Linked DNA regions of Homo sapiens. The protein of the gene in region 1 interacts with the protein of each later gene in a pairwise test. Each region holds a gene or a part of one and is shown in the gene's direction. Other genes may lie near its edges.

Region 1 (3,947 bases):
CATTTTGAATTATTTTTTTTTTGCATATGAATATTCGGTTGTTTTAGCATCAGTTGTTGAAAAGACTATCCTTTTTCCATTGAATTGCATTGGCACCTTTGTTAAAATCAGTTGACATGTCAGTGTTTCACTGATCTATATGTCCATCCTTATAGCAATACCACAATGGTTCTATTTCGGTAGGTTTATAGTTAGTTTTTTCCTCTAAATCAGGCACTGTTAGTCTTCTAACATTGTTCTTCTTTTTCAGACAATTTTTTAGATATTCTGTCTTGAATTTCCATAGAAATTTTAGAATCAGATTATCACTTTGTACAGAAGTCTGCTGAGATTTTGATAGGGATTGTGTTGAATCTGTAGATCAGTTTGGGAAGAATTGACATCCTGCCAATTTTTGAACATGGTGTATCTCTTTATTTAGCTCTACTTTCTCTCAGTAATGCTTTGTAGTTTTCATTGTATAGGTCTTGCACCTTAAAAAATTATTCTTATTTTTGATGTTACTGGGAATGCTATGATTTTCTTTGAGGTTTGTTTGTTTTTTTTTTGATATTATTATACTATGTGTGGAACCCTGCGTTGGGGAATATCCTCCTGCAACTACCAAATGTGACTGTAGTGAGCAAAGTCCTTCCTGGTTCTTCTCAGTAGTCTTTTTGTGGTCGTGCAGAAGAACCACCATATCCTGACTAATTGAGATGCAGACAGCTTAAGTTGTGAGAAAAGCTAGAATTCCAAAAGGAAGTGCTGTGACATAGTTTTCTTCATGTGTCACCATGACTTGTGTTCAGCTACGTACACTGAAAGGATGAATCTAGGAGTCCAGATTGTTGCTATAATGAAGACATTAAAAACCCGGAGCTGACAGATCACATGATGCAGTATTAGCATGTGCCAGAGGCTCAGTGGCCATTTTTTTCTTAAATACATGTGTGCATATACGTATGAATGTGTATGAATCTCTGTGTGCCAAACGCATTGTCTCCAGGTAACTATGAGTGGGCCACCCTAATCCAAGTTATGAGGTCAACAGTTTTGATTTGTGGCTCCAAAGCTCCCTTTTTCCTCCAGGGGGTGAAAAGCCCCCTCTACTTTGTCTTGTATTTATCTCTCTAAAAGAAAATCTACAGCATTTAATATACTTTAATTTTGTGGTTTATGTAACTAATTACATTTGGTATAAATGAATTTAACTGGGGTTTTATATTTTTCAGTTTTTGTCTTATTAAATCAGGAAATGCTATCACCTTTTAAGGGAATTTCAGGTACCTGGTGCTGGTGGTTGGAGAGGACAGGAAGCCCCCCATCACTCTAGCAGTACACTCAAGGTGAATCCTCGAAGTGTGCTTGTGTTGTCAGGAGGGCCATCAGGACGGCCATTCCCTGTGTTTCCCTTGTGAAGAGTGCCATGGTGGAGACTTGCCCAGCTACAGGTCACCTCAGACACTGCTGGTGGGAGAGTAGGAAACTCTTCCTAGCCTCCATCTTCTTCTTAGACTGGCACTGGCTTGCTGCACCAGGGCATGAATAGGACTCCCAGCCTTCACACTTCTTTTTGCCCCTCCTCCCATCTTTCCTACCTGGTCTTAGGTTTTAGGTTTTCTTTCCCTGTTTAGCTTCACAGATTGTATTTTATATTTACTGGCACCTTTGGCAATATTCTCATGAGGAGTTAAGGATACGTTTATACAGGATGAGTTTTTCTAAAGTACTTGTTTTTTTACAAATCCTGATGTCCAAGTGCCTTTTATTTGGTGTCTGCCTCTGGCAGATGGCGTTTTTTCAATGGAGTGAGCCATTTGGAGGAGGCAGTCTCCTGTCTTAGAAATGTTGCTTTCTGGGTAAATTGCTTTGTGAGGTTGTTTTTGTTCAGAAGCCTCGGTTGGTGCTGGTTCTGGGTATAGTTACTTGGGGCTTGAGATATTTCATGTAGTTACTTAAAGCAGATGAATTCAGCTCTGTGGGTTTATCAACCATAATGTGGTAGTATGTTCTTTCCTCAGATATTTCTCAAATATTTTTGCCTTTGAAATTTCTTTTGTAGATACAGATTATGGTTCTCTTAGGACTAGCTTTCATTTGCAACTATTTTCTATAATTATACATGCATTTCTTTAATAAATATCTTTGTGAAAGAGGAAATGTAATAAAGATATATCAAGGTTGAATGCTATTATTTATTTTTCAATTTTGTTTTGCTTTTAGGAGAAACTGGCTCTTCGACAGCAGTTGAATGAAGCGAAGCAGCAACTCCTGCAGCAGGCAGAGTATTGTACAGAAATGGGAGCAGCAGCGTGTACCCTCTTGTGGGGTGTCTCCAGCAGTGAGGAAGTCGTCAAGGCCATTTTGGGAGGAGTAAGTATGGTCAGTGGGCTCTCCAGATATTGTTGATTACTGCTTGTGTAAATTAGAGCATATAGCTTATTAAGGCATTTAAAGACTAAGTCCATATCTTTCCATTTTCTTTTGTTCACTCATCAGCTAGTTATTGAATACTTATCGTATATGGTTCATTGTAACCTGATGCAAAGGGAATGAAATAAGATCCCTTCTCTCCAGGAGACCTTGTGGTATATGTGGACATATTACCACTTCAGTATTAATACTTTACATGTGTTTAAGAAGATCAAAAGTGCTTTTATATATATTATCTCATGGTTAATATAGTATTTATTGAATATTGTGTTATCTAACATATATACATGTATGTAGATGTGTGTGTGTGTTTATACATACACACACACACACATACATATAGATGCAGAACCTTGAGCAACATGGAGGTTGGAGGCGCTGACCCCCTGCACAGTCGAAAAGCCACATAGAACTTTTGACTCTCTCTACTGTTGGCTGGAAGCCTTACTGACAACATAAATCGTTGATTAACACATTTTTTGTATGTTAGATCATCATGAAGGTCTTCCCCCTCATCATCTTCAAATTGAGTAGGCTGAAGAGGAGGAGGAAGAGGAGTGGTTGGGTTGGCATTGCTGTCTAAAGGGTGGTAGAGGTGGAGGAGGTGGAAGGGGAGGCTGGAGCAGCAGACACACTTGGTGTAACTTTTACTGAAGAAAATTCTTGTGTAAGTGGACCTGTGCAGTTCAAACCCTTGTTTTCAAGGTTCAACTGTGTGTGTGTGTGGCAGCGTGTGTGTGTGAGCATGTGTGTTTGAGCATGTGCATGTGTGTGTGACTGTGTGTGTGTGTGGGAGCATGTGTGTGTGGGGGAGTGTGTGTGTGTGGGGGGGGAGCGTGTGTGTGTGGGAGCGTGTGTGTATGGGAGCATGTGTGTGTGGGGGAGTGTGTGTGTGGGAGCGTGTGTGTGTATGTGGGAGCCTGTGTGTGTGTGTGGGGGGAGCGTGTGTGTGGGGGAGTGTGTGTGTGTGTGTGTGAGCCTGTGTATGTGGGATCGTATGTGTGTTTGTGTGGGGGAGCATGTGTGTGTGTGGGGGAGCGTGTGTGTGTGAGACTGTGTGAGTGTGTGTGTGGGAGCGTGTGTGTGTTTGGGGGAGCGTGTGTGTGGGGAGAGCGTGTGTGTGTGTGGGAGCGTGTGTATGTGGGAGCGTGTGTGGGGGGGGAGCGTGTGTGTGTGTGGGAGCATGTGTGTGTATGTGGGAGCCTGTGTGTGTGGGAGTGTGTGTGTGGGGAGCGTGTGTGGGGGGGGAGTGTGTGTGCCTGTGAGCCTGTGTATGTGGGATCGTGTGTGTGGGAGCGTGTGGGTGTGTGGGAGCATGTGTGTGTGTGGGAGCGTGCACACGCACATGTATGCATGCGTGCAGGCATTTGTCAGGGAACTTCACAGAAGGGGATAAATTTGAAATGGGCCTTGATGAATAGGTAGAAATGGCAGAAAATGGGTGGGTTTGTTTTAGGACAGTGAGTAGGTCAGTTGACACAGTGGAGAGTTAATGTCATAGAGTAGTGGGGAGGTAAAGCTTAAACGTAGGT
Region 2 (3,600 bases), on another chromosome or scaffold:
GCTCTGGCTTCTCATTGAACTTGGGGGCAGTTTGGTGAAGTTGACAAGTGTCTACATATCCAGGGGCATCTGTGCTCACTTGTCCCCCACAGACCTTGGCCTTGGGTGTATTTTCTTCTTCCTTTTCTGTGTGTCTGTGTGTGCTGCCCTCTTCTAGGCTCTGGAACTAGCTGATGGCCAGCTGGACTAAGTGTGTCAGTGTCCACACACCTCTGGCATGTCCCAATACCCCCCTACAGTCCTGAGGCTTAGGCTAAGCCTTTGGCATTGGCTAAATCAGTGGTGACCCACAAGTCACATATTTTCTGAGCAGTTGAGAAAGGGAGACAACATCCTAAAACCAGAGATTCAGGAACAAAGGGCCACTCACTTCGTCTTCACTTTCTACTCAAGACAATAGAGGTTATAACAGTAATTAAAAACAATTTTTTTTTAATTGAGATGGAATCTTGCTCTTGTCCAGGCTGGAGTGCAGTGGTGCAATCATAGCTCACTGCAACCTTGAACTCTTGGGCTCAAGCAATCCTCTTGCCTCAGCCTCCCAAGTACCTGGGACTACAGGTGCATGCCACCATGCCTGGCTAATTTATTTTTATTTTTTGTAGAGATGGAGTTGCCCAGGCTGGTTTTCAAACTCCTGGGTTCAAATAATCCTCCTTCTTTAGCCTTCCAAAGTGCTGGGATCACAGGTGTGAGCCACTGTGTCTGGCTGTGATTTTTAAATATGAGAAAAGTGGGTCAGCCAGGAGATCAGAATCTGAGGTTGGGTCATGGGAACCAGCCCTAGAGTCTTAGCTAGACCTCAGAAGTCAGGATCCCAGCCTCACACCCACAAGCATGGCCAGAAAGCAAGGATAATTTAAATATATTTGTTCCTATCAACCAAGGCAATTGTTTCTTGATATTTGTGTAAAAAATTTAAATTCTACTCTCAAGGGTATTTGTCACTCAGGCTTTAAATGCCAGCTTTGTCTGCCCAGTTTAGACCCAGCCTGCATTCCTGACTTAGTTTACCCAAAGGAAACGGCTGATTTTGTCAAACTTGGTTCCCCCTCTCTGGCTTGTATCTCTGAATTCAACATGCAGACAACAAATCTATGGTGTGCACATCCACCCAACACAACTGGCCACCCATGGGTTTGGAGATGGGGGGAACAGAACAAACCTCTCTGTGTCATGCAAACCAGGGAACCTAGCAGAGCTTCTGAGACACGGTGGGAACACGTTTCACATTTGGAGGTAGGTTTATGGTTTACATTTGTTACAAGGTACTTTTGATCTCCTGGCTTACAACTGAGAAAGCTGAGGCCACGTTAAGGGATACACCCAAGTTCCCACAGCTGTGGTTGATTTGGAATTCCGACCAGCACCTGGGATTCCCAGGCCCACGTTCTTCCCAGCAGACCCGAACACCGGCAATTTCTGGGCACCCACCATCATGGAAGGCTGTATGGAGGCAGCTATGCGGCCCTGGTCTGTCAGTGTCTATGACTAGAACATGCTACCCATCATTGACTCATCTGCCTTAAGAACTCTTCCGCCTAAGTGTTAATATTTATCATTTACAGCCCGCCACTACCCCCTTTCAAAGGTGAACACAGTAAAATTTATGACAGGTGCTCTATCAGAACACAGAGGAACATAAAAGCAGGAGGAGGTGTGATAGCCCATCCATCTGCTGGAGCAGCTCTTCCAGAGGCCCGAGTCACCTGGAGCATTCTGGCATGGGGCTGCGGCCAGGCATTTTCCTCCTGGAGCTGCTGCTGCTTCTGGGGCAAGGTAAGCGTGCCTTTTGCTCAGAGGACAACCAGTGGTTTAGCCCCGCTGGTGTCCCATGTTGCTTAGGCAATGGGTGTGTGAGAGGAGTGTGTGCTTTTGAAGAGATAAAGCACAAAGCGTACAGTTCAAGAATAAGAAGTCTGGTTTGCCTCCTGCGGAATGGGATGCAGAGGCTGCCTACACAGGGTTACATGTCCCAAAGGCTGCCGGGAGCGAGGCAGATCTTGGGACAGGAGAGAAGTGCAGTCCGGTAGCAGTACCATGGTACAAAAAAAACCCCTGGATTCTATTTGTTTGTGCTTTGTGGCTTTGGGCAAGTTCTTCCACCTCCCTGGACCTTGATTTTTTTCATCCTTAAAATGGAAATACTACTACTATGCACATTTTGATCATTACTATTACCATTTATGAGCTTTGTTTTGTTTTTGAAGGACAAAGGAAGACAGATTTCCAGATGATAAATTCTAAAAGATTGCCTACATTCTTTAGTGCTGCTAAACAGAGTGCTGAGCTTTCATTGAACTGAGTGGGCAACCAGCCAGGGCTTTCCATTCCCCCCAACATTAATGACTGTGGGTAGATTGTGCCTCTGCCACAATCCCTCTCTGCCCCTCTTCTTCCCATCATTGGCTCTCCCTTTGCTTAGGAAGGCAGAATCTTTTAAACTGAAAAGGGCCTTAAAGATCTTTCATCTTCTCCAGATGAGAGGACGGGGTCTGGAGTGAGAAGGCACTTGCCCTTGACTCCCCAGAGAGAGTGGAGGAGGCATGGGACAGAGTCCTGGGCCTGCCTAGGGTCTGAGCCCATGCTTGAGGCTTCTCTGGGGCAAGTCAGTTACCGCTCTGAGCCGTGGGGGAGAATGACGATGCTTGCTATGCCTTCTGCACAGGATGATTGTATTTCTTTGATTACTGATGAGGCCAAGGAGTGTTTTCATAGAGATTGTTTGAGTTTCTCTTTTGTGAAGTGCCTGTTGAAGTCTTTTTCCTATTGATTTTTTAGGAGTTCTCCATATATGCTGTGTACTAGCTCTTTGGAGGTTACATATATGACAAATATCTTGTTCCACTCTGAAGCTTGTCCTCCTATGGGGACTTTTGATGAGCAAAATTCTTAATTTTGTGTAAATAAATGTAGACTACCCAAATGAGGACAAACAGAGGCTACTTATTCAGAGCTCGCTGTAGCGAGACATCACTTATGTTTGGCCAAGATTCAAAGGCAGGCAGGGGAGTGGGAAAGTTTCACAGTGGAAAAAAGGGAAATCTTCAGATCTGCTCTGGTTGGAGGTTGTTGGTATCAGGGACCAGCTGACTAGAGGCACGGCATCTGAAGTTATCCAGTTGGGAGTGTATCTGGCTTTCTCTGAGGGGTCCTGAGTTGGAAGCAGAGCAAAAAATAGAGAAGATGGCAGTCATTAACCAAACCTGACCATTCTGGGCTGATTGCTGCAGAGGCTGCAGTTTGGTTCTCTGGCCTGGCCGATTGCAGACTGTGGCTCAGAGTTCTGTTATCATATGTGGTCCCACCGTTGTCCATTTGTATATTCTCTATTTTTTTTTTTTTTGAGACAGAGTCTGGCTGTGTCACCCAGGCTGGAGTGCAGTGGCTTGGTCTCAGCTTACCGCAACCTCTGCCCTCCAGGTTCAAGCAATTCCCCTGCCTCAGCCTCCTGAGTAGCTGGGATTACAGGTGCCTGCCGCCGTGCCTGGCTAATTTTTGTATTTTTAGTAGAGACAGGGTTTCACCATGTTGGCCAGGCTGGTCTCAAACTCCTAATCTTAAGTGATCTGCCTGCCTCGGCCTCCCAGAGAGCTGGGA

The links. Proteins that work in one complex are often made in the same cells at the same time.
Region 2: the proteins of HSF2BP (region 1) and PLB1 interact in binary tests that used the Homo sapiens proteins (3 or more experiments, as listed by UniProt).

The regions. Positions count from the first base shown.
Region 1 is NC_000021.9:43,631,680-43,635,626, reverse strand, and holds part of HSF2BP (heat shock factor 2-binding protein), read left to right. Parts: intron 1-2,205; coding exon 2,206-2,355; coding exon of another isoform or gene 2,356-2,364; intron 2,365-3,947. UniProt on the Homo sapiens protein: Meiotic recombination factor component of recombination bridges involved in meiotic double-strand break repair.
Region 2 is NC_000002.12:28,494,391-28,497,990, forward strand, and holds the start of PLB1 (phospholipase B1, membrane-associated isoform 1 precursor), read left to right. Parts: upstream 1-1,669; 5' UTR 1,670-1,724; coding exon 1,725-1,779; intron 1,780-3,600. UniProt on the Homo sapiens protein: Calcium-independent membrane-associated phospholipase that catalyzes complete diacylation of phospholipids by hydrolyzing both sn-1 and sn-2 fatty acyl chains attached to the glycerol backbone (phospholipase B activity).